4 separate regions of the Homo sapiens genome follow, and all the other regions are reported to be linked to region 3. Evidence: microRNA targets listed by miRTarBase, many of them from high-throughput screens and not tested one by one. Region 3 holds a microRNA gene; each other region holds the end of a gene's coding sequence.
The links. The annotated mature microRNA hsa-miR-5689 reads AGCAUACACCUGUAGUCCUAGA and lies in region 3 at 3,914-3,935, shown strand. An mRNA with a match to its seed (bases 2 to 7 or 8) in the 3' UTR can be bound and repressed. Matches are read on the target gene's strand: a 7mer-m8 pairs with bases 2 to 8, a 7mer-A1 pairs with bases 2 to 7 and ends in A, and an 8mer does both.

Region 1 (7,608 bases), not on the chromosome of region 3:
ACATTTCCTCCTCCTTGGACTAGATGATCAAAACGAACATCCCCACTGTGGGGCAGATGGGCATTGTGTGCCTCGAGATGCGATGCCCTGAGAGGCCGCGTGACGCAGGTAGTGGTTCAGCCACCTGGAATGCAAAACCAAATCTAATCACGAGGAAATCGCAGACAAACACAGATAAGCAGCACCACCTAAAACGAACTGTATCCTTACAAACTGTTCCTATCATCACAGACAAAGCTATGGAAATGATCCAGATTAAAGAAGACCAAGGAGACATGACAACTCAACTGATTACCTGATCCAGACCAGATCCAGCACCGCAGAGGGAAAGGTGCTATAGAGGACACGATGCGGCCAATGGGAATATGAGTGGTGAGGTATTCTATCAGTGTTAGATGGACGGAATTTGACAACTGTACTGCAGTCGTCAGAGAGTATCTTCTTCTTGGTAAGTACCCACTGAGGTATTAGGGGTAAAAGGCCATGACAGGTGTGGAGGCAGCAGGAGGGAGGGAGAGGGAGAGACAGGGGGTTGGCGCAAGGGAGAGAGAACGCACACACATTTGAGAACACACATGACAGATAGAATGGGACGAAATGTTAATAGGTGTATCTGGGCAAAGGATATTTGAGCCTCATTTGTACAGTTTTTATTCTTGCAACTTTTCTGTAGCTTTGAAATCATTTCCAAGTAAAATTAACTTTTTTAAAAGAGGCCATACAATATAGCAGTGGTCCTCAACCAGGGCTGTGTCCTGGACACACCCTAGAGCACCTTAGATGCTCTGGGACCCAGGCATCTGTAGTTCTCAAAGTGCCCCGGTGCTTCCAATGTGCAGCCACGGGCAGGAAACACCAGCCTAGTGGGTGAGCTCACTCACTAAATTTCAGACATGACGAGCAGTGCTTTTGCTCTCTGAAGAACAAGCACTGGGTAATGCCAACACCTAGCCTCAGCTACACGGGGGAAGGGCAGAAACAAGATGTTGAATTTGCATGGCCCTGGCCAACACAGACAACATCCCCTTCTAGTGGTTCCCAGGCAAGAGAAAAAGGCATTTCCAGGACAACTGTGCCAGGAATTAAACACAAGTTAAAACTGGCAGGAGCTGGAATGGTTTCCCAGACCTCAGAGCTACCTCCCCACCTCCATCTTTTTGGTCTCACTGGTAATATGGCCAGTCTGGGTCCAGCTGGCAGAGCACACGGGAGGAGGCTGCTCTCTCACCAGGCAAACTGAGGACTGAGTACAGGAAGGGTGTGGAGAATTATCCTCTTGGGCAAGTTGAAGAACAAGGCTACTGCTTGGCATATTTCCCAAAGCCATTTCCCACTCTAGAGGCCCTGTTCTGTCCTGTAGAAAGAGTGGAGAACAACCAACATCACAGTCCAAATATTGCTCACCTCAGGGCCAGCCTGTGACAGGGTACCCACAGGATGGTTCATATTGAAAACTGGGGGGACCATGCTCGGGGGAGGTGGTGGTAGTGAAAGGTCACAAACATTCTTGCCCACTGTGCAACAGGCAGGGGCAAGAGGTGGGATGGGTCAGTAGTCACATGATAAATCCCCCGGGGCCTCTGAAATCACATTCTGGTAACTTCCACTTTGTGAAAAGGAGTTAGTTTTTACTCCTCTCCTTTCCCGTGTCTTCTCCATTTTCAGGTGGGACAGATCTGCATGATATTTGGGCATCTCAAAACTGACGAGCCCAAAACTGACCATGAGTCACACCCCCAGATGTGTTCTCTAACTACTCCCTAGCTCTGTGACTTTGTTTCCCCAGTTGACTGAGCCAGAAACCTGGGACTCATCCTAGATGAGTCTTCTCTTCTCCCTTCTCTGTCCCACGTCCAATCAATGATCGAATTCCACCACTGTCCTGCCTCCAAACAGCCAGAATCCACCGCTCACCACCGCCCCCAACAGTGCCCTGCTGCCCACTGCTAAGCTCTCTCAACTGCTATGCCAGCCTAACTGAAGCCCAGTCACACCAATTCATCCTGGCTTCAGCACGGCCGGCTTGCATCACCACCTTCTTCTCAGTTCACCTTCCAAATCAAACCTCCAAAGAGCTGCTTCCACCTACAAGTCAGCTCTCACCTCCACAGGATGTTCCGTAAGACACTAGAGGGCCTGGGCTTTCCTGCTTCTCCAACTTCTTTCCCCAGCCTTGTATTTTAAGCTCCCTGCACACACAATTTTGTTTCACACTCTTGTGTACCATCTTTCAACAAAGCCTATCCAGCCTCCAAGCTTGGGCATCTCCTCCAGGAAGTCACCCCTGACCTCTCCGGAACTCCCCTTTGGACTCCCATTCTATTACTACAACCACTGCAGTGTGAAAATTATCTTCTCCTATGTATGTCTCCTATACTAGGACTCCGAACTCCTTGAAGACAAGGACAGTATCGCCACTGTATCCCCAGTGCATTGCACAAAGTAGAGCTCTATATTTCTAGGATATACTGGACTGAAAGCATCTGTGGTTTTTTGAATATCAAGCCCTTTAGAATCTGGCAACAGCTATAACGAAAACACACGTAAACCATGATGAACTATAGACAGCACCAACAAAGAAAACATGATACTGCTGCTCTGGAACTGAAATATCCCCCAAATAATGAAAAATAATATGTTGGGGGCTGATACAGAGTTTATTGAATTAGATTTTTCTATTTACAACTGAGATCACATCTACATACTATTTTGCTAGTCTACATGGGTACATTATTTCCAACAAGCTTAAGACTTACCATGAATGGGCTCATTCATACAAAAACACACTCACACTAATTCTTTTAAAACAGTAGTGCATACATTATACTCCTCCTATAAAGCCAACTTTGATTAAAAACCACTAGTTTCAAAGCTCAGTCTCTGATTTTGAAGATGAACCAAGATATACGCCATATGATCCTACAATCTATTTTAGTCATTTTGTACAGCTGCTATCTTATTGGACTACAGTAAATATTTTTTAAAAGGACACCAATGAGGGGCACCATCTGGTGTTAACCTTAACCAGAAAGCTGGTTTCCTCCTCCTCCCCGCAAAAACCTTTGGCCAAGAGTTCTCCACTGTGAAGACTGAAAGGACCTGGTGACATTTCGGCATCAGTCCTGTTACCACTTGGAGGTAACAGAAGCAGGCTCGTGTCCTCCTTTAATTCTACCACACTACATGACTCGCAATTGGTTCTGAAATTAGAACGTTCACCATCGTACTTAAAATCTTAGGGGCATGAAGAGTCAGCTAGAACAAGGAAAAAGAAAGTCGCAGGTAGTAGGTAAGTAGGTGGGCACATGAAAAGCCAAGCTGCTCTGTCCAACACCAGTGTACATGTGCTTTAACTAAATGAACTCCAGAGGCCAACAGCAGCAGACCTGCTCAATTCACCTTCCAAATCAGAACAAGACCAAAAAGCTCAGGCTTGAGTTGTCAACTATGCATAGGTTCCGCCAGTGATGAGGAGCTCGTAAGCAGGATCTCTACTCCTTCTGCACAACACGATGCAAGCACACAGCATGCCCAGCAGCTGTTGAAAGAAAACAACAATGGGGAAAAAAGGCTGAAAACCCTCTCATGGCAGGTGTGTATTTCTTTGTTGGTAAAAGAGCTGTTTCAAAGTTCAATGACTTCAAATCATCAAAAAGGCAGTAACAACAGTGATAGAAGGAATTTCTTATGAGTACATTATTTTTTAAGGAACTAAGTCCTAAGCTTCAGCTTCCCTCCCAGGAACTCTTCGTAAAGCCAGCAGGGAATCAAGTCTCTCTTATTTGGCATCCCCACTACTAGTCTAGCGAGTGCTGTCCGAAAGAACTTTCTGCAGCGATGGAGACATACCACATATGCACTGTCATGTGGCCTCATGTGACTACTGAGCACCTGAAATATAGTTACTGCAACTGAGTTGCACTTTTAATTTTATTTAAATTAATTTAAATGTAGACACATGTGGCTAGTGGCTACCATTCTGGACAGCAAAGGCCTGGGGAGTAGAATGAGCAAGAATGTGTGTGTTTAATAGTGGTCTTTTCAGGTCTTTTGGTTTTTGGAAAACGAAATTCAGTATGTGAATAGCCCTATGGTAGAAAACAAATTCTGATGCCAAAAAAAATGTAGTTGGAAGGTTTTTTGTTTCCTTCACATTCACTATTTTTGAAATCCACGGTTCTGTGGTATTACATACATATTACTTTTGAAAGGTCACTCTTCCGTCATCATTTTATTTCAATAAGTCCTAAACCTTCTGTGGTAGCATATTGGAATAGTAATAAAGTCATGCCATGTTATTTTGGATAAGCAAAAGGATTAAGCTGGATTAAAGAGAAAATGATTCTAGAATTTTTGACCTACCTTCTCCCAAAATATAATTTTTTTGTGAGATAATTTGCTGTTCTAACTTCTCATTGATGAGGAAAAGCCTCAGTTATTTGATTTTAAAAGACAGGGTCCTCTGTACATTTGGGGGTCAATCTAATTTCCGCAAAATGTACCCAATCCATAAACAGACTCTCAAAGTTTGAAGTGGAAGATTAACCACTACTAAGACACACATACACATAAGGATGTCCTCAATCTGAATTCTCCATGGTATAAAGTCACCCACTCCAATTTCTACCCTCACATTAACCTATATTCTGCCCATTCGGGATATATATTTCCTGCTCAAATCCATCAGTTTCACTATTTCACCACTTGCACCATTTGCACCATTTCACCATTTGCAAAGCACCTTAAACACACTTAAGAGGTGAATATTATTTAAAGTTTACTAAACAATTTAAGTCAATTCTAGACCGATGAAGTACCTAATTCCTAGAGAAATACATTTCTGTTCTCTGTACATCAAAACATTGTTAGAACAGCTATAAACTCAAATGCAATTATGTTCTCAGGCAATGTTAAATTGAGCAATAAAAATGCTAAGCTCAGAAATGACTGGTTTGCTAAGGGAAAAAAAATCTCTCTTCCCACCCCCACCTCCCCACACTCCTTTCAATTGGTTAACTTCTATTAGAGAAGCCAGCATTCTCAAAATGAGGTCTGAAATAAGTATTTCTTTCCCAATTTGTTTATTTCAATGAAATCAACTTGTATTGATTTTAAAACAAATAAACTTGATAAAATTCTACTCATGCTTGGGAATCAGTCTGCTTAAGAATATTAAGCTCTACATAATAATTTCTTATCCTCACCATTAACTATTACAGGCTCATTTCCAAAGGCCTGCTATACTGAAATTCCATTGATTTTTGAAACATTCCAACAACATACTTGGAAACATTACACAAATATTTTATCTCCAACATTATTTCTTGCAATGAAATACTCTCTTGCAATATTCAAGGCATGAGAATTAAACTTCACTTAGCCCAAATATAACACCCAGCAACTGCAAAAATTGAAAAAAATGACTAGTGGTGATTAAAAAAACTGACTGGCAAAGTAAAATGTTCTATGATATACCATGTTGCTGGTGGTATGGGGAAATAGGCATTCTTATACAAAAATAAGAACTTTTGCACATTAGAAACACTCTTTTCTGAGAAAAAATTGGAAATACCTATCAAAATTCATTCATACATTCTGATACTGTAATTTCATAGTTACAAATTTTTGCTATAAACAGCCCATCAATATTGATTAAAGTATGCCTATAAAATGGAATACTATGCAGACATGAAATTAAAAAGGCAGATCTATATCCAAAATACACTAATTTGTTTTTAAGAAGGTACAAAAGGTTGCAAACTATATGAATTCATTTATATAACATTTTGCAATGTTGGCCAGGGTGTGAGGGGAAGGAGGAGGAAGTTTCTCATTTTAACGAATAACTGGTAATTGAGGAGGAGGAGGAAAGAGCAGTCTCCACCGGCTTCACATGCGGCACAGAGACCAGAAAAAAAGCAACATGGCCTTGGGAAACAGTTCTTTATGAAATCTGCTCTTGATCGTTCTATCTTGAGGATATGCCAACTTCATGAGACCCCAAAGTAAAGACTTAGAACATTTTCCCCGTATTGCCTTTGTAGAGAGACAGCCTTACTCACAGCAGATACTCAGGAGCTTGACAAATCAAAATCTAGATTTTTGTCAATTATTATGACCAGATTCTTTAAATATAAAATTCATAATTGATCATGAGTTAAGAGAGTGGCTACTCTCAAAGAAGTGAAATATCCTGCTAATTAATAAGGGGTACATCAAAATTTTTAAAACCTCATTCTTTTATATTCAAAAGTCCTGTTATTATAATTAATTGGTATTTTTCAGGTTTTTCTTTCTTGGTCACTTTGGTCCTACCCAAATCTAGATTATTTAATGGACTAGAGCAAGAGTCACCAAACATTTTCTTAAAGGGCCATATCATAAATATTTTAGGCTTTCCAAACCAAGACAAAAATCAATCAATATTGTAACTACTCAACTCTGCCATCTTACCTCTGTATTTTATCCAGCTAAAGTGTCAATTAACTGTCAGGTTTCCTGACAAAATTTAGGAATTTAATCTTCTGCAAATCTTATACTTGTAATTGGAGGCAGAGTACAAACAAAGGCAGGGGTCTCTAGAGTTGACACTCTGTGTGATGGTCATGCCACACTATCCTTGCTCACCCAAAATTTTGTGGCTAAACAAAGAGGGCCAAGACTGGAGACTCTCCAACCATCCTCTCCAGCTCTAAATGTCTATATTAGGATCAGTGTATAAGCACAAAAGCTCACTGATCTTTCAGTTATTTCTGCCTTTGTTCAGGTTTTCCACACCCAGGGCACCAATCTATCAGATTTTGAATACCAGAAGCTTAGAATGTTTACAGGTACTCTTAAAAACAATTAGGGAAAATTATTAATTCAGATAAATTTTCTCCCCTTAAAACCCAAGTTTTTAAAATTTTCAAAACCACTAGGTTTTGAGTCTGTGAAAGCTCTGAATCCCTAAACTTAAGCAGCCTTGCTGAAGTGAAAAAATCAAGCTTTATCAGCTTTTACTTAAGTCAGGGTGACTTAAGTATAAAACACATATGGCAGTCATATTTAAATTAAGAGACTAGTTAAAATATTTATTAGCCCCTATTGAAAAATATTTAATAAAGAAATGTCTGGCAGGCTAAGCCGCTTAACTAGATGAGGGACATAGCTAAAGTGATTATTTTTATCAGTCTTCTATATACATGTTGCATATTTCATGACCACAAGTACCATACAGTTCCAAAACTTTTTTGCTGCATGCTAGTACATGTGGCTTTATTACTGAACATAAAATCATTAAGAATGCACAGTTCAGAATTCTATTTGGGAAAAGAGACCTTCCTCATATTTCATTATTTTTAGCTAAATGAATGTGTTTGCATAAATAATCAAAATATGAAATAAATCCCTGCTGATCATCAGATTACTGCTATGCAGAGCTACAGAGTAAATGCTTAGAAGGGCAAAGACCATGGCAAATAAAGAGGTAGGCTTTTTAATGAATCATTTCAGGGCTGTCTGAATATCAGCAAAGTAAACAATCATCCTTTTGCCATTTTAAAAGGCCTTTCCCATTAAATACACTAGCTTCTGTTCAAATATACAAAGAGCAAGCAATCCAAGCAA
Region 2 (8,124 bases), not on the chromosome of region 3:
AATTCTTCGTGGGATAGGTAGCAAGGGGCCACAGTCTTAACATCCCATGGATAAGTAGAAGATGGGAATGGCAAGTCTTTCTTAGCTACCAAATTCGTAATGTACTGTTGCCCAGATACTAGCATTTACACATTGAGCCAGTCTACCTGGCAGTAGCCAATAAGATGAACGTGGCAGAAGCATATGGGCAAAACTGCTGAGAACTTGTCTACAAGAAGCCAGATTCATCTTTCTCATAGGCGGGTGGTAATGTGACCCCATATTCTCCTCGCCACCTTAAAAAATACTCAACAGCTCATTGTGATTTTCTGGATAAACTCTAGACTTGCTAGTGCGTCATACAGGCTCTGAGGCTGTTCCCAGTCTGGTCACCACCTAACTCTCGTTTCTTCACTCAAACTTGACGGCTTTCACTAGCATAGCCACCTTTTAATGTAATGTAGTATTTGTTTGCCAAAGAATACATGTTACATGCATGTACATTATCAAGCATACCATAAAATGGAAGACACCTATTAAACTGTCATCCTACTTAAGACCTAGAACATTCCTAATGCTCTCAGTACCTGGCCAGCCCCTCCTTGTTTTCTGTCACCTTTCCATTTCAGATTGGGTTAGGTGGTCCCCTTTGCTGCTTCTGATGGCACCAGTACTTGTTCCTACCACTGCTCTTCTCGCTGTGTCTTAACTCCTTTCTTGTTACTACCCCCCACTGGAGTGTAAGCTCCTTTGGGTTAGGAATTGAGGTTTAACTTCAGTGCTTGATACAGAGTTAAATGCTGTAGGATAGGTGGTCCCCTACCTTACCTCTCCTTTTTTTAAAGTATACGGTCCAGTGGTTTCACAGAGCTGTACAACCATTACCACAATTAATTTCAGAACATTTTATCACCCCAAAAAGAAACGCCATACCCATCAGCAGCCACTCCCCATTGTCCTCTATCCTCCTTAGAGTTGATATCATCAGGCCAAATCCTAAGTTCAGGTGGGAGAGCCATTATTCCTTTGCTGTTCCCAACTCCACATCCAGCATGGGGAGATGCAACCCAGGACACAGTAACTTGAACCAATGGAAATGAGCTGTCCTTATGACTAGCTTCTGTGTTTTCTAAGGGAGTAGAAGAGAACTTTATTTCTGAGAATAAGTAGGCAAAGAGTACAGGAAGGCCCAGGAATGAGGCTTCGTGGGCTCAGATCCTAACACTTCAATTTGTTAGCTGTATGATTTGAGGAAAGTCACCTAATCTCCCAAAGCCTCTATTTCTAATAAAAATATAGATAATAATTCTTGCTTTAATCCCACAGGGTAATATATTTGAAAATATTTCAGAAATAATAATGTGCCATCCAGTGTAAGGAAGGGGTTATTATTTTATTTGTTACATGACTCACGAGTACATGAGAGCTCATTAAAAGGTGAATGATAGCCCGTCGGTGTGTAGAGAGACTTAGAAAAGCTGTAGTCCCATGCCCTCCATTTTTGAAGGGAAAATTGAGGTTCACAGAGGTTAAGACTCATTAGTGACTAAACCAGGACTGGAAGCCGTGCAACTCCCAGCTTCTGATCTAGGATTATTTCCACTGTGCTCTCCTGCCTCACTCTCCCACACAAACTAATTTTTGGGGTTGGGCTTTAAGGTAAAACCAGCGTACAACACTAACTAGAGGTGGTTGATTGGTAGAGATGTGGAAGCAGAGCCATACTTGTTCAATTAAAAAAAGATTTTAGAATCACAGCAGAATGACTGAAGGGCAGGATTAAACTCAACAGTTTGCATTTTTAAATCTAAAATGTTTATCTTATCAGTAAATTTGGCTGCCTTCCCTTCCCCCTCTGCGTCTCCAGACAGAAGCCGATTATTGGGTTTGATTTTCGGTATTAGGTGCCTCTTGTACTATTGCTGAACAACCAGCAGAGAGAAGGTGATCCCATTGACGCAGATGTCTCATCAGCCACATACCATGAGGTCCTTGAACAACCAAGACCTTCTGGTTCTAATATTATAATGCAGAAAACCCATAGAAAGGTAGTTAGCGGTTCCCTCAGTGTAGCAGAGCCATGCGGTGAGTCATTTAAAGCTGCAGGTAAGCCAAAAGCAATTCTTTTCAGCTTTGGAACATACTTAAGGCTTCTGCGCAGGCTCGCTCTCATCAGATTTCTAACCTTTCTAAATAACAAGGCCATACTGTGAAGACTGTAAACTCTGGAAGTGACTAAAAATGTGGTCAGGCTTCTGCCTTGCACCTGTCAGTCCTTAAACCTTTTTGGAACACCAGACTCCAGGCTCAGCATAACCATGCTTTCAAAGCTGTCACTGGAAGACAGAAAGTGAAGATTTTCTTTTAAGAGTCCATCTAGTGTGAATTCGAAATTCAGATATCTTCTTTTTTAACTGCTGTAGTGTCAGTAAAACACTTGGCAGATAATAGGTTCCCAGGAGTTCTCAAAATAAGTCTGAGTGATTGGGGTAATCGGCTGCTCCTTTGGTCCCTGGCTTTGTGACTTAGGAATACCTCGTTCTCTTCCCCTGATCCCATGCCCTGTTCCAACTGGGCCCTGTAAGGTGTGTGTTCTCCCGCAGGTGGCTGGAGAGCGATACGTCTACAAATTTGTCTGTGACCCAGATGCCCTCTTCTCCATGGCTTTCCCGGATAACCAGCGTCCGTTCCTGAAGGCAGAGTCCGAGTGCCACCTCAGCGAGGAGGACACCCTGCCGCTGACCCACTTTGAAGACAGCCCCGCTTACCTCCTGGACATGGACCGCTGCAGCAGCCTCCCCTATGCCGAAGGCTTTGCTTACTAAGTTTCTGAGTGGCGGAGTGGCCAAACCCTAGAGCTAGCAGTTCCCATTCAGGCAAACAAGGGCAGTGGTTTTGTTTGTGTTTTTGGTTGTTCCTAAAGCTTGCCCTTTGAGTATTATCTGGAGAACCCAAGCTGTCTCTGGATTGGCACCCTTAAAGACAGATACATTGGCTGGGGAGTGGGAACAGGGAGGGGCAGAAAACCACCAAAAGGCCAGTGCCTCAACTCTTGATTCTGATGAGGTTTCTGGGAAGAGATCAAAATGGAGTCTCCTTACCATGGACAATACATGCAAAGCAATATCTTGTTCAGGTTAGTACCCGCAAAACGGGACATAGTATGTGACAATCTGCATCGATCATGGACTACTAAATGCCTTTACATAGAAGGGCTCTGATTTGCACAATTTGTTGAAAAATCACAAACCCATAGAAAAGTAAGTAGGCTAAGTTGGGGAGGCTCAAACCATTAAGGGTTAAAAATACATCTTAAACATTGGAAAGCTCTTCTAGCTGAATCTGAAATATTACCCCTTGTCTAGAAAAAGGGGGGCAGTCAGAACAGCTGTTCCCCACTCCGTGGTTCTCAAAATCATAAACCATGGCTACTCTTGGGAACCACCCGGCCATGTGGTCGCCAAGTAGAGCAAGCCCCCTTTCTCTTCCCAATCACGTGGCTGAGTGTGGATGACTTTTATTTTAGGAGAAGGGCGATTAACACTTTTGACAGTATTTTGTTTTGCCCTGATTTGGGGGATTGTTTTGTTTTGGTGGTTGTTTTGGAAAAACAGTTTATAAACTGATTTTTGTAGTTTTGGTATTTAAAGCAAAAAAACGAAAAACAAAAAACAAAAACAAACCTTTTGGTAACTGTGCACTGTGTCCTTTAGCCAGGGCCGTGCCAACTTATGAAGACACTGCAGCTTGAGAGGGGCTTTGCTGAGGCTTCCCCTTGGCCATGTGAAAGCCCGCCTTGTTGCCTGCTTTGTGCTTTCTGCACCAGACAACCTGATGGAACATTTGCACCTGAGTTGTACATTTTTGAAGTGTGCAGGGCAGCCTGGACACAAGCTTAGATTCTCTATGTATAGTTCCCCGTGTTCACTAACATGCCCTCTCTGGAAAGCATATGTATATAACATGTGTCATGTCCTTTGGAAACCTGGTCACCTGGTGAAAACCCTTGGGATTCTTCCCTGGGCATGACTGATGACAATTTCCATTTCATCAGTTTGTTTTGTTTTCCTTTTTCTTTAAATCTTGGACTTTAAACCCTACCTGTGTGATTCAGTAGGGTTTGAGACTTACGTGTGATACTGACAGGTAAGCAACAGTGCTAGCATTCTAGATTCCTGCCTTTTTTTAAAAAGAAATTATTCTCATTGCTGTATTATATTGGAAAAGTTTTAAACAACCAAGCTAAAGCTATGTGAAAGTTGAGCTCAAAGTAGAGGAAAAGTTACTGGTGGTACCTTGCTGCCTGCTCTGCTGGTAGAATTCTGTGCTCCCCGTGACACTTAGTACATTAAGAATGACTACACTGTTCCTCGTATGTGAAGGAGGCAGTGCTGACTCCGTGAGTGTGAGACACGTGCTTTGAACTGCTTTTCTATTCATGGAGCACTCCATAGTCTCAAACTGTCCCCCTTATGACCAACAGCACATTTGTGAAGAGGTTCGCAGGGATAAGGGGTGCACTTTATAGCTATGGAAACATGAGATTCTCCTCTATTGGAAGCTAATTAGCCCACAAAGGTGGTAAACCTGTAGATTGGGCCTTAATTAGCATTGTACTCTAATCAAAGGACTCTTTCTAAACCATATTTATAGCTTTCTTAACCTACACATAGTCTATACATAGATGCATATTTTACCCCCAGCTGGCTAGAGATTTATTTGTTGTAAATGCTGTATAGATTTGGTTTTCCTTTCTTTACTTACCCTGGTTTGGATTTTTTTTTTTTTTCTTTTGAATGGATTTATGCTGTCTTAGCAATATGACAATAATCCTCTGTAGCTTGAGCTACCCCTCCCCTGCTGTAACTTACGTGACCTGTGCTGTCACTGGGCATAGGACAGCGGCATCACGGTTGCATTCCCATTGGACTCATGCACCTCCCGGATGGTTTTTGTTTTTTTCGGGGGTTCTTTGGGGTTTGTTTGTTTGCTTCTTTTCCAGAGTGTGGAAAGTCTACAGTGCAGAAAGGCTTGAACCTGCCAGCTGATTTGAAATACTTTCCCCTGCGCAGGGCCGTATGCATCCTGCCAAGCTGCGTTATATTCTGTACTGTGTACAATAAAGAAGTTTGCTTTTCGTTTACCAAGCACCCGAACCTGCCTCTTTCTTGCCCTCATTGGTCTAATTTTAAAGCAGGCAAAAGCCCCCTGGCTTTCTCTCCGCCCCCGCCCTAGCCCTCTCAACAATTTAGCCTTACCAATGGACAGTGGCATCGAGGGTAGTTAGGGAACTCTGTTACCTGGAAATAGATGTGCACAGCTCCTCTTAAACTCCAGCTAAAAATTTAATCCAAAGAGGTGGAAAGTCGAGAGATCCTCTTCCCAGCCAATGGTGAGCTGAGATCACCTCATCCCCTTGAGCCCACCAAGCCACCAATTCTTAGTAACTCTTTTTTTAAGTGTAGCCCATGTTTCGCTTTGGGTTGTGTGAAAAGATTACAAAGCAGTCTAGGACTTTCGAGTCCCAGAATTATCCTCAGCCCCTTATGTGGATACTTTGAAAACCAGTAAGAACTTAAGACCATTCATTTTCTAATTTTTCCCCAATAAGTTTTGCTCTTGACAAGTGAAAAATCAATTAATGGTTGATAAATAACGAAAAAAGCTCAGGAAGGTTTTGCCCACTATGTTTTTTTCTGGCCGTGCAGCAGTAAAAACCTCCTCCTCCAAGTTTGTCTCTTTCTCGTGAATATGTATCACTCGGGAAATACGTGGAAGGAAATAAAGTTCGCCGGGTTGTATTGCGGTGTTATTACGGTTATTACGGTTTCTAGTGCTCTTATTTCACCCTTTTTCTGCACCTCTAATTTGGCCTTCTCAAGACTCCTATTACAGTGGAGAAATAAAGTAGAGCCTTTTTTCAAGCCTAGAACAGAAGGCTTTCTGTCAGTTTATCTGCTATCTTTCTTTACTGTTTTACAAGCCTCTAAGTGTAGAAACATCGAGACTGAATGAGTGCACCGCCTCTTGAATTGGAGCTTGTGAGGAATGAATGTCTGCCACATAAACCCCATTAGCTTCGACAGATTAAGAAAAGATGCTTGGGGAGAAGGGGCAAGGGTGCGCAGGAAAAAGCCGTCTCTGCCTCTCAGCTTCACCATGATAAGGCTTTAACAATCCGCTCCCCATTATTCACGGGCTCGTTATCCAGCCTGGGCCCGGACCCAGATCGTTAACCTAACGCAGGAGGTCACCAAACACTGCCGCCCTTCTAGTGTTGGGCGCTAGGATAAGGAAGCTCAGAGAATGGGAAGTTTACTCTGCATCAGGGTCCCCTTTCATGAGCCAAGCCAGGGAAACAATGCGTATTCAGTTGTTAGATGACAAAGAGGTAGTGTGAGCGCAGAAGAATGTGGTTTTGAGAGCCAGAGTATGTGCAGAATCTAAATTCTAATGCAGCTGGGACAAATGTAAACTAATGTGGAAGAAAAACACTAATGTACCCAGACGGTTGGAAACTTTGGAGAGACCGTTCATTGCCCAGCGGTGCAGGTGGCTGCTACTCAATGTGTGGCCTCTGAAATACAAGAGAAAGGAAAAAAGTCCAGAAGATCATCAGTTTAATACAAATGCATAGTGTAAGTATTGTTTAGTACAAATACATAGTGTAAGTATTCTATTCAACATAAGTGTATTGTACTTAAAATAGGGGGAGGGTGTGAGGGTGGTACCAGGCGAGCGGCTATGTCCTTTTGATCCCGGCAAGTACACTGGTGTCCCATTCAGAAGGGGCCCTTTGAATGACCAGCCTTAGCTCCTCCAACTTTAAGAGCTGGCTCTACACCCAAGCCTGGGTTTGTTGACCTTGGCAGTGAACCTCAGGTAACCTTTGGGTAGCACTTTACACAGCACTTTTTCATCTCCATTATCTTTTTGGCAGGCTTTCTGAAATGGTAATACTGTTGAAATTGAGTCTGAAAATACCATGGCTGTTAGCCTCCAAAATTAATTTCTTTTTTGGAATTTTCACAGTGGCTACTGTGGAAAGAGGACTAGTCCCTTGGAGCCTAGACATTTGGGTTCTGGCCCCAGGTCAGTGGTTGATTGGGTTTAACTAAATGGTCTCAGGGGACCATCTGGCCTAACCTCCTAGGTTCATTGAGGGCACTGATGAAGTACTACTCCCCGATCTCATAGGCAGTAAGGGAGAAAGAAAGGAGTTTCCTAGGGGAGTCAAGGAATGTGTGTGCGTGTGTAGGAGAGTTAACAGTTAAGAACATCATTCTCAAGTCACCATTTTTAAGCAAGCTCTGAAGATGGCTCAGTTCCACCATTAATGGCACATTTCTTCTTTTTCAATCATCCACTGAGCACCTGCTAGGTGCCAGGCACTGCTGGATGCTAAACATAAATGATTTAGGTGGCATTTTCAAGCTAAAGCCCTGTTTGTGGTATAGTAATTGTGTGACAACCTCTTACATGTTTAAGTGCTATACTTTCCAGGTAATACTTAAACACCACTGACACCATCTTATCCAGACTATGTTGACCAGAAGCTGGGGAGGCTGGGGCATTTATCCTCCAACTCCTGCCCTTATTGGTTGAAGGTTATCCCCAGAGATGTTAACTCTTCAATATATATCCTATCAGGAAGAGAAGAGTGTAGATGCAGATAATCAGTGTGCTAGGAACTGTTTTCAGATGCAGTTAGCTTAGGGGGTTGAGGGCACATGGAGCTGGCATCAGTGATGTCTGTGACACCTACCTTTAACAATTAGCCGGACTCTCCTGGATGACCTGTTTCCTAGAGTGAAACAAGGGTGAGTCTGTGCTTTCATCATTGAGTTATCATGTACCAATCATCGATGATGTGTAAGACACTATAATAGACACTTTGCAGGTGAAGATAAGGGAGTCACAAGCCCACCCTCTCCTTCAGCACCCAACAATCTAGTGGGGGAAACATTTCTCCAGGTGAAACTAGAATGCAAGGTATAATATACTGAGTATTACTCATCCAATAAATAGTGCCTAGTCTATGCCAGGTACTGCTGTAGGATTCGTGGAGGGAAATAAATCTCTGCTCTCAAGGATCTTACATCTGGGCAAGGGAGGAAAAAAACAAATGATAGAATTTGTTAGGTG
Region 3 (8,124 bases):
GAGACATTGATGGAAAAATTTCTACTTTTGGAGACAAATTCTCATTCGCATTAGTTTTATTTTTATTTCTCAATTATAAGTTATTTGGCGTTCTGGCTCACCTAATCCGTGAACCAAGAGGGTTGCTTTCGGAAGCCTACTAGTGGAAAATGAAAGTTTCAGATCTGAAGCTAGCAAATGCTCACTTGCTGATGATGAGGAACAAGTTCTATTATAATAGAGTTGGTTACAAGGCTATGCAGCAAGAAAAAGGTGCTCAGCTTTATGAGAGAAGTGCAACAGATATTGGAATGTGGTGGCCTTGATGATGCTGTTCTTAGGAGACTCCATAGGCATTCTTTTTTTTTTTTTGAGACGGAATCTCGCTCCGTCGCCCACTCGCCACCGCGCCCGGCTAATTTTTTTGTATTTTTAGTAGAGACAGGGTTTCACTGTGTTAGCCAGGATGGTTTCCATCTCCTGACCTCGTGATCCGCCCGCCTCGGCCTCCCAAAGTGCTGGGATTACAGGCATGAGCCACCGCGCCCGGCCGCAGTAGGCATTCTTATACTTTGATGGGAGTAGTGTAATATGGTATAGCTTCTTTGTGAAATCGATCCAAATAAATATGAGCACACCTTTGAACCTAGCGACTCCACTTGTTGGAATTTATCCTACAGATGGAGTTGCAAGTGTGCGAAATGATGGGTTTATATATCGTGACTTTTTTAATAATAGCAAAGACTGGAAACAGTCTAAATGCTATCAATAAGACACATTTAAATAAATGATGGGTCAGTCGTATAAAGGAATAACATTCAGTCATTACAAGGAATGAGGCAGTTCTCTATGTACTCTACAGATTCATTTCCAAGACATATTGTTAAGGAAGAAAGCAAGGTGTAGTGCACTAGGTATGGTATACACATGTGTTAAGAATTGTGTTTTACTGTAGTATACCATACCTTATATGTTTAATAGAACATATCTCATCTATATTTTGTAATTCATTTTTATAAAACTGCCTGTAAATAGAAAAATTTTATTATCTCTTTCATGTCTACAGCTTCTACATTTATGTCCCCTCTTACTTTTTTTTTTTTTGGAGAGACAGTGTCTCACTATGTTGCCTAGACCAGTTTCAAACTCCTGGGCTCAAGTGATCCTTCTGCCTCAGCCTCCCAAAGCGTTGGAACTACAGGTGTGAGCCAGCCCGCCTGGCCCCTCTTACATTCTTTGTTGTTGTTGTTTTGTTGTTGTTGTCTTTGTTGTTTTTTGAAGCAGAGTCTCCCTCTGTGGCCCAGGCTGGAGTGCAGTGGCTTGATCGTGGCTCACTGCAACCTCCGCCTCCCAGGTTCAAGCCATTCTCCTGCCTCAGCTTCCCGAGTAGCTAGGACTGTAGGCATATGCCACCACGCCCAGCTAATTTTTTTTATAATTTTAGTAGAGATGGGTTTTCACCATGTTGGCCAGGCTGGCCTCAAGCTCCTGACCTCCAGTGATCTTCCTGCCTTGGCCTCCCAAAATGCTGGGATTACAGGCATGAGCCACTGGGCCGAGCCCCCTTACATTCTTAATATAGTTTATTTGTGTCCTTTCTTTTTTCACTTTTTCACTCTTGCTTACAGGTTTTTCAATTGTGTTAGGCTTTTTAAAGAACTGCTTGTCTTTGTAATGCTCTATATTATAAATTTTAGTTGTATTTATTTACTTCTGCTCTTACATTAATTTTTCATTTTTGATCTTTGAATTTATTTTGCTGTTGTTTTCTAATTCTAATTTGGATGACTAGCTAATTAAAAAAAATGTTTTCCCACTTCTTAAATGTCAGCATTTATAGGCTTTTGCGCTATACATTTCACTCAAAGTAGATTTTGTGAAATGCCACAATATTTGGCATGTGGCATTTTCACAATTGTCAATTCAAAATGTTTTCTAGTTTTCAGTGTGACTTATTTTTTGATCCATGGCTTTACTTATAAGTGTATATTTAAAAATTTCCAAATATATCATTTGTTTTGACTATTACATTTTTCATTAAGGTATAACTGACAAATAAAAATTACGTATGTTTAAAAAAGGAATTGTATTTTGCTGCAAGTAACAGTGAGCTTGTTATGGTGTTTAAGCTGTTTCAACTGCTAAAAAACAACAACAACAAAACAGATATGGACAGGGCCATGGCTTATAAGGGAACTCCATCATTCTCAGGACCTAATTTCCTCCATCTTGTTGCTCTGCCATCCCAAGTGGGCTGTTTTACAGTCCAAGAAAGCTGCTTAAGCTCCAGTCATCACGTCCACATCCCAGCCAGCAGAAAGGCAAAAGATCTGACAAATGTTACATTCTAGTATCTTCCACTCCAGTATCGAAAACTTAGTTACATAGCCTGCATTATTAGCTAACAGAAAGGCTGAGAAATGCAGTTTTTTGCTGGACAGCAATGAGTGGCTTCAAATACATTTGGACGGCTGTTATAAAAAGAGTGAGGAGATCAGACGCCAGTGGCTCACTCCTGTAATCCCATCACTTTGAGAGGCCAAGGTGAAAGGATCCCTTAGGCCCAGGAGTTTGAGACCAGTCTGGGCAACATGGTGAAACTCTGTCTCTACAAAAATTTAAAAATTAGCCAGATGGTGCGTGCCTGTAGTCCCAGCTACTCAGGAGGCTGAGGCAAGAGGTCAAGGCTGTGCTGAGCCTTTGTTCATGCCACTGCACTCCAGCCTGGGTGGCAGAGCAAAACCCCATATCAACAAAGAAAGAAAGTGGGAGAATGGATGTTGAGACAGGCGACTTGCTGTCTCTTTCATAGTATGCTAACATTTATGTGATGAGGAGAATATATAATCTGTATATGTTAAGAAAAGTTTGGGATGTCTAGAAATACACAAGTACCTAGTAACAGTATGTATAGGTGTCTTTGGGAAGATCTGATGACTAGGGGAAAGGAAGAGAGACAAGCTTTGCAACTTACCATTTTGCCTTTTGAATTTTATATTATGGCCATGTATTTTTTAAAGAAAAAAATTACATGCAAAAACTAGCATTTGATGTTAAGATTTTCCAACTGGATCTGCTTTGTGGCTAAAAGTTTCCCTCCCCTGTAGCTTGAATATATACAACTAAAAGATATGTATAGATATGTATATGCAACTATATATATACAACTAAAATGTGTACAATGCAATGTTTTGATATATGTCTATCTTGTGAGGTGAGATACCATAATCAAGCTAATTCAAATTCACACATCCATCACCTCACACAGTTACCATTTCTATGTGTGTGTGGTGAGAACATTTAAGCTTTTTTTTTTTTTTTTTTTGAGATGGAGTCTTGTTCTGTCTCTCAGGCTGGAGTGCAATGGCGTGATCTTGGCTCACTGCAACCTCCACCTCCCAGGTTCAAGCGATTCTTCTGCCTCAGCCTCCCGAGTAGCTGGGATTAAAGGCGTGCACCACCATGCATGGCTAATTTTTGTATTTTTAGTAGAGTCAGGATTTCGACGTGTTGGCCAGGCTGGTCTCGAACTCCTGACCTCAGGTAATCCACCCTCCTCGGCCTCCCAAAGTACTAGGATTACAGGCATGAGCCACATTACCTGGCCACATTTAAGCTTTTTAACTAAAAGTTTATTGGGAGAATAAAGTGGAGGGCAGTTAAAATCCCTCTAGTGGAAGAAAAGACCTGGACAATATGAGCTGTGTTCATTATGACCACTGGGAAGATGAGTTTCACCCTTCACATGACTATATGGTGAGAACATGTTTCTCAGCTGAGACAAGATTTCAGGAAAGTTTGCAAGAACCGAGAGAAAATGGAAGAAAATGAAATATTTGTTCTTCAGAGTCACCAGTTTTATTATATGCCTGGACTCTGTCACTTATGTCAATAAATTTACAAATGCAAAATACACATTTAATTCCAGCGTGGTAGCATACACCTGTAGTCCTAGATACTCAGGAGGGTGAGTATCTAGGACTACAGGTGTGTGCTACCACGCTTGAACTCAGGAGTTCAAGGCCAGCCTGGACAACACAGGGAGACCCCCTCTCTAAATGTATATACACACATACACACACACACACACACACACACACATTCAAACATTGGAATCAGATGTCCTGGACAAAATGCTCAAATCAGCTGAACACTTTGGAATGCTTAACTTTTCTTTTTTTTAGATGTTTATTTATTTATTTATTTTGTTTTTTATTTTATTATTATTATACTTTAAGTTTTAGGGTACATGTGCGCAATGTGCAGGTTTGTTACATATGTATACATGTGCCATGTTGGTGTGCTGCACCCATTAACTCGTCATTTAGCATTAGGTATATCTCCAAATGCTATCCCTCCCCCCTCCCCCCACCCCACAACAGTCCCCGGAGTGTGATGTTCCCCTTCCTGTGTCCATGTGTTCTCATTGTTCAATTCCCACCTATGAGTGAGAACATGCGGTGTTTGGTTTTTTGTCCTTGTGATAGTTTGCTGAGGATGATGGTTTCCAGTTTCATCCATGTCCCTACAAAGGACATGAACTCATCATTTTTTATGGCTGCATAGTATTCCATGGTGTATATGTGCCACATTTTCTTAATCCAGTCTATCATTGTTGGACATTTGGGTTGGTTCCAAGTCTTTGCTATTGTGAATAGTGCCGCAATAAACCTACGTGTGCATGTGTCTTTATAGCAGCATGATTTATAATCCTTTGGGTATATACCCAGTAATGGGATGGCTGGGTCAAATGGTATTTGTAGTTCTAGATCCCTGAGGAATCGCCACACTGACTTCCACAATGGTTGAACTAGTTTACGGTCCCACCAACAGTGTAAAAGTGTTCCTATTTCTCCACATCCTCTCCAGCACCTGTTGTTTCCTGACTTTTTAATGATCACCATTCTAACTGGTGTGAGATGGTATCTCATTGTGGTTTTGATTTGCATTTCTCTGATGGCCAGTGATGATGAGCATTTTTTCATGTGTTTTTTGGCTGCATAAATGTCTTCTTTTGAGAAGTGTCTGTTCATATCCTTCGCCCACTTTTTGATGGGGTTGTTTATTTTTTTCTTGTAAATTTGTTTGAGTTCATTGTAGATTCTGGATATTAGCCCTTTGTCAGATGAGTAGGTTGCAAAAATTTTCTCCCATTTCGTAGGTTGCTTGTTCACTCTGATGGTAGTTTCTTTTGCTGGAATGCTTAACTTTTCTTTCCTGCAAGAGGAAGACTGGGAGATTGAGAGGTGTGCCCAGGGTGTCAGCTCAGTGCCTGGTAGAGGCAGGTAACATGAGCTTTGAGCCCTGGCCTGTGGATTGTGTTGTGCTTGGACTGGCCTGTTACGCCATCTGCTTGCTTCTGCCTGAAATTCCTGTAACACAAGATAAAACCTCTCATTCTGCAATTTACCAATAAACCTTATAAAATCTGAGGCTAAGCCTTGTGAAATGGCAAACCCTAGAAAGCCAGAGAGCTGGCATGCGGTAGTTCAGCAGTGGCTGCAGGAAATAGAAGGAAAGGGAGTGAGGAGACAGGGTGCAAGCTGGAATGTGATCACAGGGGAGGGGGATCTCTGGACTATGGGGGAATGACGGGCAGCTTGAGGCCCTGAGATGAAAGACACTCCCTTTAAGAAAAACGTCTGTGACTCAGAGCCACAAGGCGTGTCAGGAGAAAGTTCTGATGAAACTGCATTCCATTCCTGGAGGAATACGCATTGCCATTGAAGTACAAACTCTAAAATGATGTAGGATTAATAATTAAGGCAACACTAGTAGTGGATGGTGGCCCAGAGAGCTTTCCCTAGCTTTGTTAATTTTCTTCTCTCCACAGCTTACGTAAGCAAATATTCACCCAAAGAGTAGAGAATGTTGAGACATTTAGCATTATGTATTAGTCTGTTCTCACAGTGCTATAAAAAAAAAATACCTGAGACTGGGTAATATATGAAGAGAAGTTTAATTGACTCAGTTCCGTAGACTGTACAGGAAGCACAGCTGAGGAGGCCTCAGGACACTTGCAGTCACGGCATGGGGCAAAGGGGAAGCAAGCACATCTTCACATGGCAACAGGAGAGAGAGCAAAGGGGGAAGCGCTACACACTTTTAAGCCACCAGATCTCATGAGAACTCACTCACTATCATGAGGACAGCAAGGGGGAAATTCTCCCCCATGAGCCAATCACCTCCCACCAGGTCCCTCCCCCAACATTAGGAATTACAATTTGCATGAGATTTGTGTGGCCACACGGAGCCAAACCATATCACATTGGTCAACCTATATAGTAATGTTTTTCTTAATCTAAATGTATACTAAGTTAGTGTTTTATCGATTTAAAAATACATCTTGAAAAGGATTTTGCAATTTACTTTTTTTTTTTTTTTGTGAGACAGAGTCTCACTCTTGTCCCCCAGGCTGGAGTGTAGTAGCGTGATCTTGGCTCGCTGCAATCTCTGCCTCCCAGGTTCAAGCAATTCTCCTGCCTCAGCCTCCTGAGTAGCTTGGATTACAGGCGCCTGCCACTACTCCCGGCTAATTTTTTGGTATTTTTAGTAGAGACAGGGTTTCACCATGTTGGCCAGGCTGGTTTCAAACTCCTGACCTCAAGTGATCCGCCCACCTCGGCTTCCCAAAGTGCTAGGATTACAGACGTGAGCCACCATGCCCAGCCCACAATTTCTTTTAAAACTAAACATATACAGTTGTCCATCAGTATCTGCAGGGGACTGGTTCCAGGTCTCCCTGCAAGTACCAAAATCACAGATGCTCAGGAATCTGATATAAAGCAGGGTAGTACTTGCATATAACCCACACACATCCTCCTGTATACTTTAAATCATCTCTAGATTACTTATAATACCTAGTACAAGGTGAAGACTATGTAAACAGTTGTTATACTGTATTTAAAAAAATAATTTCCACTTTCATTTTAGATTCAGGTGGTACATATGCAGGTTTGTTATATAAGTGTATTGCATGATGCTGAGGTTTGGAGTTCAATTGATCCCATCACTCAGATAGTGAGCATAATTATACTGTATACAGTTTAGGAAATAATAACAAGAAAAAAGTCTATACATATTCCATACAGACATGATCATCCTTTCCTCCCACCCCTTGATTTTTTATTGAATTCATGAATATTTGCTGAGTCCATGAATGTGGAACCCACGGATAGGGAAGGCTGACTGCACCTACATTATGACCTGGCAATTCCACACCTAGGTTACTCACCCGGGAGAAATAAAAGCATATGTCCTCAAAGAGGCTTGTTCAAAAATGTCCATAGCTTTATTCATAAATAACTGAAAGCTGAAAACAACCAATAGGAGAATGAATAAACTAACTGTGGTAAATTCAGACAATGAAATACTACACAATAAAAAAGGGAGGAACCGGCTGGGCGCGGTGGCTCACACCTGTAATCCCAGCACATTGGGAGGCCGAGGTGGGTGGATCACCTGGGGTCAAGAGTTCGAGACCAGCCTGGCCAACATGGTGAAACCCCATCTCTACTAAAAATACAAAAATAGTCAGGTGTGGTGGCACGCACCTCCAATCCCAGCTACTCGAAAGGCTGAGGCAGGAGAATCAGCTTGAATCCAGGAGGCAGAGGTTGCAGTGAGCTGAGATTGTGCCACTGCACTCCAGCCTGGGTGACTCTGTCTCAAAAAAAAAGGGGGGGTGGGGGGAGGAACCATTGATACATACAACATCATGATGAATTCCAAAAATGTTGTACTGAATGGAAGAAGCCTTACACAAGAAAGCACATACTGTTTATATATTTATCATCCTAGAACAAGCAAAACTAATCTATGGACTAATCTAAGGTGGGGGCAGGGGAATCCAGAGAAAGGGTTACCTTTGGGAGTTGGGCCATGGGGTTGGGGACCAGCTGTGCAGGGGAGCTTTCAGGGCAGTCTTAAGGTACTGGATCTCACCAGGGGTTTGCCTTGCTTGTATACATGGCCTTCCTTGCAACTTGCTGAATGGCACACTTATAAACTGTGCATTTTTTGTATTTAAATTTTACCTCAAAAGAAGAAGAAATCAACCAACATTGAACTCTAATAAAAGATATGCATGTTGGAACATATGGGGAGAAGTGTATTGCTGACTGCAACATACTTAGAAATGCATTA
Region 4 (8,124 bases), not on the chromosome of region 3:
TGCACTCCAGCCTGGGTGACAGAGTGAGACTGTGTCTCAAGAAAAAAATTGTAAAAAAGGGACTTGCCAGCCAGGCATGATGCCTCACCTATAATCCCAGCACTTTGGGAGGCCGAGGCAGGAGGATGGTTTGAGCCCAGTAGTTTGAGACCAGCCTAAGGAACATGGTGAGACCCTATCTCTACAAAAATTTTAAATAGCCAGGCATGGCAGCAGATGCCTGTAGTCCCAGCTATTCAGGCAGCTGAGGCAGGAGAATCACTGAAGTCTGGGAGGTTGAGGCTGCAGTGAGCTGTGATTGCACCTTGCACTCCAGCCTGGGCAACAGAGCGAGATCCTATCTCAAAAAAAATTTTTTTTAGGCCAGGCATGGTGGCTTATGCCTGTAATCCCAGCACTTTGGGAGGCCAAGGCAGGCAGATCACGAGGTCAGGAGTTTGAGACTAGCCTTGCCCACATGGTGAAACCCCGTCTCTACTAAAAATGCAAAATTAGCTGGGCATGGTGGTGCGCACCTGTAATCCCAGCTACTCAGGAGGCTGAGGCAGGAGAATCACTTGAACCCGGGAGATGGAGGTTGCAGTGAGCCAAGATCGCACCATTGCACTCCAGCCTGGGCAATAGAGTGAGACTTTGTCTCAAAAAAAAAAAGAGGAGGGGGAGGCCTTGCCCATGGTGTCTGTCCATCAGCACTCTCTCAAAAGCCTCTGATGAGCTGCAGCCACCATTCAGGATGCAGTTTCATGGCAGCAGTATTCAGGGTAGACTTAGTAGTTTTTATAAACTTGATGTATAAGAGTAGTCGGTGTGTACACCTGTGATAAATGATTTTCTCAATGGAGTGTGTGCATATGTGTCTAGGGAGGACCAGGAAGGATTGGGGGGTGGGGTTTTGCCCCTTACACATGATTGGAAAATGTGTGGGTGTGCGTGTATATATAACCGTGTTGTTATGTTGCCTGAGATGTACCGCATGTTTTGTAGACACCAAATAACAAAATAGCAACGTGTGTGTATTTTGCCCTTTGGGATTTTCCCACAAATCTTGGGTAGAGTTTGGGTAAAGATTATGGGGAAATGGTTTTTGTATCCCCAGGCCAGGGAGAGTCTCCTCACCATTTTGAGTCCTTTTTGTGCCAGAACACTTGCAGCCCTTCATGTGTGCTGGGGTGGGAAGGCACATTTATACTCAGGCCGTCAGCCTCTGTTGATGGGGCCTCTTGTAGAGGTTGTCATGTGTACCTACAGACTACACTTCACCCTCACCAAACACAGCCTGCATGTGCCCATAGCTCCGGGTACACCTGCTGGGAACCCAAAATGCCAGCAATCAGCCCTGACAAACACAAATGGCCACCACTTGTGTAGCACTCTCTGCCTGCAGAGAGAGGGCTACGTGCTGTGTCCTTTACACACGCTACACACATTTAAACCTTTTCACAACCCTGTGAGGGACAAGATGATTACAGATGAAGATGGCTACACTAAGAAGCCAAGTAACTTGAACCCAAAATCTCTCTCTCCAGAGCCTCTGTGTTTAACCCAACACTAGAATCCTTCCTGAGATAATTTGCAGTGTCATCTATAGGTTAGGTAGGAAAAGGTGAACTAATGGAGAACAAAAATGAAGGCATCAATTATTCTGTCCACTCTCCCAAAGAGGACTCCCAGGAATGTCCGCGGCATTCGTCCTTGTGTTTTCCTCCACAGTGAGGACCTCTGTGACTGCCTTACATGCATGGATCCGTCACCTCATTTGCTATTGGGTCCTTTAGATCCATCATCTCTTGCTATTCCAGCTGCCCTTTGCTGGATATGGGAGGTGGGATATTGTCCTTTCTATTATAGATGAGAAAACTAAGTCTCCATCCTTGAATTCTCATGGGTAATCTCAACTGTATGGTTTTGAAACAAGTTTTTCTTTTCTTTCCTAGAAGAACACAAACAGAACGGGCAGGATAAGGACTCTTCCATAACAAGACTATGAAGCCACTTCCACATCAATTCCAGGCCACCTAATCCCATCCGAGGAGGCCATGGGGAGGAGGAGGGAGGGGAGTGGGCTGGGGGGAGAGTCTGTTTTCTGTGCACTCCCTGTGACTCTGGCCTTTCTTCTTCTTTTTTTAATTGACCAATTTTTAGTTAAAAAGGCAAAAGAAGGTGAATTTGAGATTTACAGAAAACAGTTCCAGTGTTTGGTTTCCGCTGTCTTTCCTTTCATTTGCCATGTTTTTACATTCTTCCAAATTTGGGGTCACTCCCCTAGCTCCTGATGCTGCTACTGTACCATCCTTTTGCTCCAGCCATGAGAGCAGACATTGCAGAATGTTGGTTCCAGGTTGGCATGCTCTGAAGCTCTTGAACTGTAGCACAGGCAGAGCCCTTTTTCTTCCTGTCATCTCCACCCGATTCCTTCCATCCCTACGTCTACCACTCTCTGGGTCCTCACTGGTCTTCAAAGGACCTGGCTCTCATAGGATCCCCTCAGGATTGTGTGCAGGGAGAGGGGGCTTTGCTGGGGAGGAGCTGGGAGTGGAGAGTTGGAGGGTGGGTGGGGTTCCCTCATCCAGTTTCCACAGCCCACCATGGCTGGAGCCAAATGCTAGAAGCGAGATTGAGAACAGTGGCCGTTTAGTGATGTGGTTTACCTAATACCACTGTCCAGCTGTGCAGCTCAGAAAGGATAAACCAGTCAGGGACAGGGGCCAGAACAGGTTTGGGAAGGTGGCAGCAAGCAGAGCATGGTGGGTAGGAGATGATCCCTAAAAAAACTGGAGACTGTGGTGGTCTGAGCTGGTCAGGAATCTGCAGAATCCCTTCCAGGAATCAGTGTGCCAGTGCCCACAGCAGGGTGAGCTAGGAGGGAGAAATCCCAGGAAAAAGGTCGTGAGAACCCAGAAAGCCACTCCATGAGGAGGCACGGTGACCACAGCTGCTAAAGGTTCTTAGGCTGCCTTCCTGGGCTAGGAAGAGCCCCCCAGGGAGAGCTTCCACAAAAGGGTATGTGTCAAACCTTTTGTCAGAATAAATAATAGCATTTCCCACCCACCCCCATGCCCTGGGCCACAGGGACTTGGTGGGATCAGCACACCCATGGATCAGCTTTTGCTGTCTTAGAGACAGCCATCCCCATGAAGGAATGGTAAGGACAGCCACTGCTCAGTGAAGAACAGCCATTTGGAAGAGCCACGCTGGAGCCCTGCAGCCATAGAACTATTCACACTGGAGTTTTAAAAGAAACAGCAATACCATAAGCTCTAGTAGGGAATCATAATCAGGAAAGGAATTCACAACATAAAATAGGTGTTCTGTGCTATTAATCATGTAACTTTGTATATGATGTATAGCAAAGATACTGGGAGGTTTTGTTTCATCCTTAAATCAGAAATGAATGCTAGTTTCATAGCTGGGCAGAACCCTCATCCCCACCCCAAAGTTTTCCTTTTCTTTCCCGTTCCCCCAACCCAAAGATCAGACTACTGTTAAGTTTCACCACACAATTGGAATTGCAAAGACGGGAGGCAAATGGAGTGATTTTCATCAATGGAATTGCACTGACAGTGAGTGTTTCTTATAGGATTACTAAATTTTTTAATATAAAATGATTTGTTTAAAAATCAGGAGTTGATATTAAGTACCAGGACATTAGTTCGGATGATTTCATTTTTATTTCTACAGTGTTAAAAGTGCACTTATATGCTGGTTTATTTACGTCTTGGGAAAAGAGACTGCAAATTGAAGGGATGATTGTTACTTTTTCTTTTTTTAAAAAAAAAAGGTTAAGGAGATTTTAAGACTTATAAATGTTTAAGAAATTATAAACAAGGTTAGACCCTTTGAAAAAAAGTTTAGAAGATATTCTTAAAGTAAATTTTTATAGTGTTAATTTTGTAATAATTTATGTTTTACTATATTACAGAGCTAACTGACCAGAATAGTTTCAGAAACAATATGAAACTTAGGAAAGTTTAAGCAATGTTTATATTTTTAAAATGTTCTTTGAATTATGTTTTTATTGTACATTTCTTCAGACTGAAAAGTATGTACATATCTTTGTTATTTTTGCACAATTTTGTCTTGTTCGGTTTCAGAGGTCTGTTGTTTTTTATAATTTATTTTGAGTTGTAAAACTTGCAGGAGTAAAAACAAAAAACAAAATCTCCACAACAAAATAACCCTCTGATTTATAAACTCTTATAGTCAAAGAGGGAAAACAAAGGTTGAGAGATTAAGTGGCTGCTTCTGAGAAATAATGTCTCAAGGACTAAAGGAGCAATTCAATAGGTTTAGACATTGTAGCTCTCTACATCTTGAATTGGAAGCTGGAATAAAGAGCCCCCACCCCCCCCCCCACCCTCATCGAATGCTGCTTACTTTGTCAAAAGACTGGCTATGACCAAGGTGAGGATATTTCTGGAAAACTGGGCAAAAAGGGAAAGCCCACAGTATTCTTCCTTGGCAGTCAACCACAGGTTTACTTTACAATGATGTATTAAAAACTTGCAGCTTGAAAAATGGAATGCAAATAAAAGGTTCTCTTTGGGTTTGTCTTAATGGAGTTAAACTGGAGCAGCCTATAAAACATTTTTAGGGTGATGTCCTCTGGGTCCTTCTGTTCTGCACACCCACTCAGTCTTCTCTCCCAGCCCCTTGACTGCACACACCCCTCTTTGCCTGAAGATCTCCTGACTTGTCGCCAGCCATAGAGGCTCGAAAGCTCTGGTTGTGAAGCATAACGCAATGCATAGACCTGTCAGCCATAAAAAAAAAAAAAAAAAAAAAAAAGCGACTTGGATAACTTGTATGCCTTCTTTTGTATCAATGTACCAATTGTAAATAATGCTGATCAACCTTTGTAGAGAATAGTTTATACAGCATATTCTATTATTGCTGATTCTCAGTGAACTCTTGTTTTAAAAAAGGAAAAAAAGAAATTTTCTATTTACACCTTATATTTTGTTATGCTGTCGGCCCATGGCACTTTAACAAAACTCTGTGGGTTTTACGTAGCTGGTCAGTCATGGGGTATATTAAATAACTGTTGTTGCACAGACAAGAATTTGCACCTGCTCATTTGTCCTTTCCTACTACCAATTTTAGAACCTTTTCCAGAAAAATTTTGAAGAAAGCATGTCCGATCATTCTAAACAAATGCCACACTTGTGGAGTGGGTTTCTTTTCTACAATCCATATTTTGTAACACTAAGTATTTTCCTTCTTCGTCCCGCACCTCTATGTATTAGCACTATCAGATAGAGTTCATTCCATGCCTGTGATATTGTAAGCAGAATAAATGTCTAAAGTAGGTGTAAATAGTAAATTCTATGGCTTACAGTTTTAAAAGGAAAGAACAAACATGTATCTATTGATACTGCCATGGTTCCTCACCAGGCCTGGAAATATTCTCCAGTAAGCAATTGTATTTTTTTTTTTTTTTTGCTTTTTTTTTTTTTGTAACATGGCTTTGTAAATAAAATAATTTATATGTTTGTAAAACAAAGTCTTCGGGTTTTCATAAAATTTAAATTTTTGGTATTTCTTTTTTTTTTTTTTTTTTTTTTTTTTTTTTTTTGCCGGGGGTGAAGGTATTCTCACCAAAAGAGCCTTTCTGCTAGACCTGCGTTTGAGGCAGGAGACGACTGTGAGGAGAAGAGAAGACAGTGGATTCATTCAGCGAGTACTTAGAGAGCACCCTCTCTGTGCCTGCCCCTGAGCCAGGCGCTCTGTGCGCAGGGATGAGAAACACGATCCCAGCTGCTTTCTGGAAGCAACCCAGTGAGAAGGAAAGCAAATAAATACACACATGATCAGATGTGTAATTACGGATTGTGGCAAATGCTATGGTGGAAAGAACTGAATTCTGTGAGAGAAAGTAACAGGAGAGACATTTACGATGGAGAGGAGGCAGCTCTCAGGAAGTTCTCTCTGAAGAAGTGATCTGAAGGCAGAGATCACTTCTTGAAGCCTAAAGAGCGTCCATTGTGGACAGACCAGGGGCAGAGAGATGGACAGAGGGCAGGGACGAGGCCACAGAAGGCCTTTAGGGAGTTTGAATTTTGTGTCCAATTCAGTGGGAATCCTTGGAAGGGCTTTAAGGAGGGCCACGGTACTGTGATCTGTTAAAAGGGCACTCTAGCCACTGTGTGGTGAATCAGTGGGAAGCTATTGCAAGAGACAAAGTGAAGAACATCAGTGTGATCGAAAGATGATGACAGTAGCTATAAAGAAAAGTGTGTGCCAGCCTGGGCAATACAGGGAGACCCTGTCCCTAAAAAAAGGTAGCCGGGCATGGTGGTGCGCAGCTGTGATCCCAGCTATTTGGTGGGCTCAGGCGGGAGGATCGCTTGAGCTTGGGAGGTAGGTCAAGGTGTTACCAGTGGAAGGTATCCAAGTTACTGGTGGCAAACCTATACAGATCTGCAGCAACCTCAGTTCTTGCCTCCTCAGAAAAATTCAACTGGGGCATAAGGCAGAAGAAGAGATCGAGGCAAGTTTAAGAGCAGGAGTGAAAGTTTATTAAAAAGCTCTAGAGGCTGGATGGGCTCAGTGACTCACACCTGTAATCTCAACATTTCAGGAGGCCGAGGCAGGTGGATCACCTGAGGTTAGGAGCTTGGGACCAGCCTGGCCAACATGGTAAAACATCATCTCTACTAAAAATACAAAAAATGAGCTGGGCATGGTGGTACACGCTTGTAATCCCAGCTACGTGGGAGGCTGGGGCAGGAGAAGCACTTGAACTCGGGAGGCGGAGGTTGCACCACTACACTCCAGCCTGGGTGAAGGAGTGAGAGACTGTTCCAAAAAAAAAAAAAAATTAGCCGGGCATGGTTGCACGTGCCTGTAATCCCAGCTAGGAGTCAGGAGGCTGAGGCACGAGAATCGCTTGAACCTGGGAAGCGGAGGTTGCAATGAGCTGAGATCATATCACTGCACACCAGCCTGGGCAACAGAGCAAGACTCCATCTCAAAAAAAGAAAAGCTTTAGAGCAGTAAGGAAAGGAAAGAAGGAAAGTGCAATTGGAAGTGGACCAAGCAGGCGACTTGAGAAACCAAGCATGCAGCTTGATCTCTTGACTTGGGTGTTTTATCCATTGGCCTACTTCCAGGATCTTGCATTACTTCTCCCCACTGCTGAGATCTTACTGGGAAGCGGCTGATAGTTTCAAGTGTTTTCTATTAGGAGACTGCCTTTCCCTGGCACCGGCTGTGACCAATTATTACTTTAGCGAAACAGTTAACAACTGCCCGAACATGACCTGAGGGCCACCCAACTCTCCTGGTGTGTGGGGGGTGAGGGAGCTCTCTCCTGCCCTGCCCGTGCCTAATTAGCTGCCCCCTGTAACAAAGGTTGCAATGAGCCGTGCTCACACCACTGTGCTTCGGCCTGGGCAACAGAGACCCCATCTCAAAAAAAAAAAAAAAAAAGAAGTGGATTCAAGATATATGTATTTTAGATATGAAATTGATAAGATTTGTTTAGGTAAAGAACGACTCCCAGGTCTCTGGTAGAGCAATTAGTTTGGGTGGAGTTGTCATTTCTTCAGATATGGAAAACCAAAGGAGGAAGAGGCTTTTTGAGGGGCTGGCAGCAGGAGTGTTTAGTGAAGATCGGAAGCAGGCCGGGTACGGTGGCTCACACCTGTGATACCAGCACTTTGGGAGGCCAAGGTGGGCAGATCACCTGAGGTCAGGAGTTCAAGATCAGCCTGGCCAACATGGTGAAACCTCGTCTCTACTAAAAAAAATATTGTTGTGATTACCTGAGAGAATGTAAAGGGAGAAGAGAAGAGAGATTGGGTAGAGCCAGAAAGCTGGCAGGGAACCCTAAGATGAAGCCCTTCAAAGCAAAGAGTGACCCCAGCAGAAAGTGGTTCCCTGAAAGCCAGGACTGTACATGTTTTGGGGAAGGAGCAGTTAGCTGAACCAAATGCTGCTGCAAAATGGAAGACAGGGATGGCGGCGTGTCTAGGGCTTAGCAACGTGGCGGTCACTGGTGAATTATTAGTTTCCTAGGGTTATCATGACAAATGACCACAATGTGCTGGTTTAAAGCAACACACATTTATTATCCCATGGTTCTAGAGACCAGAAGTCCAAAATCAAGGCGTCCGCAGGCTGCAT

Region 1: the mRNA of TSPAN3 is a reported target of hsa-miR-5689. Seed matches in the 3' UTR shown: 8mer at 2,814-2,821.
Region 2: miRTarBase lists ETV5 as a target of hsa-miR-5689. Seed matches in the 3' UTR shown: 7mer-A1 at 5,056-5,062.
Region 4: the mRNA of ATXN7L1 is a reported target of hsa-miR-5689. Seed matches in the 3' UTR shown: 7mer-m8 at 4,801-4,807.

The regions. Positions count from the first base shown.
Region 1 is chr15:77,043,390-77,050,997 of GRCh38, forward strand. It overlaps TSPAN3 (tetraspanin 3), which reads right to left. Exons shown (of 7, transcript NM_005724.6): 7 at 1-3,538. The coding sequence ends at 3,446. Among named protein-coding and RNA genes, the nearest start is that of TSPAN3, 24 kb to the right of the region's middle. RefSeq lists an enhancer at 1-948.
Region 2 is chr3:186,043,319-186,051,442 of GRCh38, reverse strand. ETV5 (ETS variant transcription factor 5) reads left to right here. Exons shown (of 13, transcript NM_004454.3): 13 at 2,583-5,129. The coding sequence ends at 2,804. Among named protein-coding and RNA genes, the nearest start is that of ETV5-AS1, 32 kb to the left of the region's middle.
Region 3 is chr6:10,435,812-10,443,935 of GRCh38, forward strand. It overlaps MIR5689 (microRNA 5689), which reads left to right and starts at 3,906; the gene lies at 3,906-3,983. All of the region lies in intron 1 of MIR5689HG (MIR5689 host gene), which reads left to right. RefSeq lists enhancers at 4,924-5,424, 5,425-5,925.
Region 4 is chr7:105,601,704-105,609,827 of GRCh38, reverse strand. It overlaps ATXN7L1 (ataxin 7 like 1), which reads left to right. Exons shown (of 12, transcript NM_020725.2): 12 at 1,938-5,056. The coding sequence ends at 1,976. Among named protein-coding and RNA genes, the nearest start is that of EFCAB10, 24 kb to the right of the region's middle.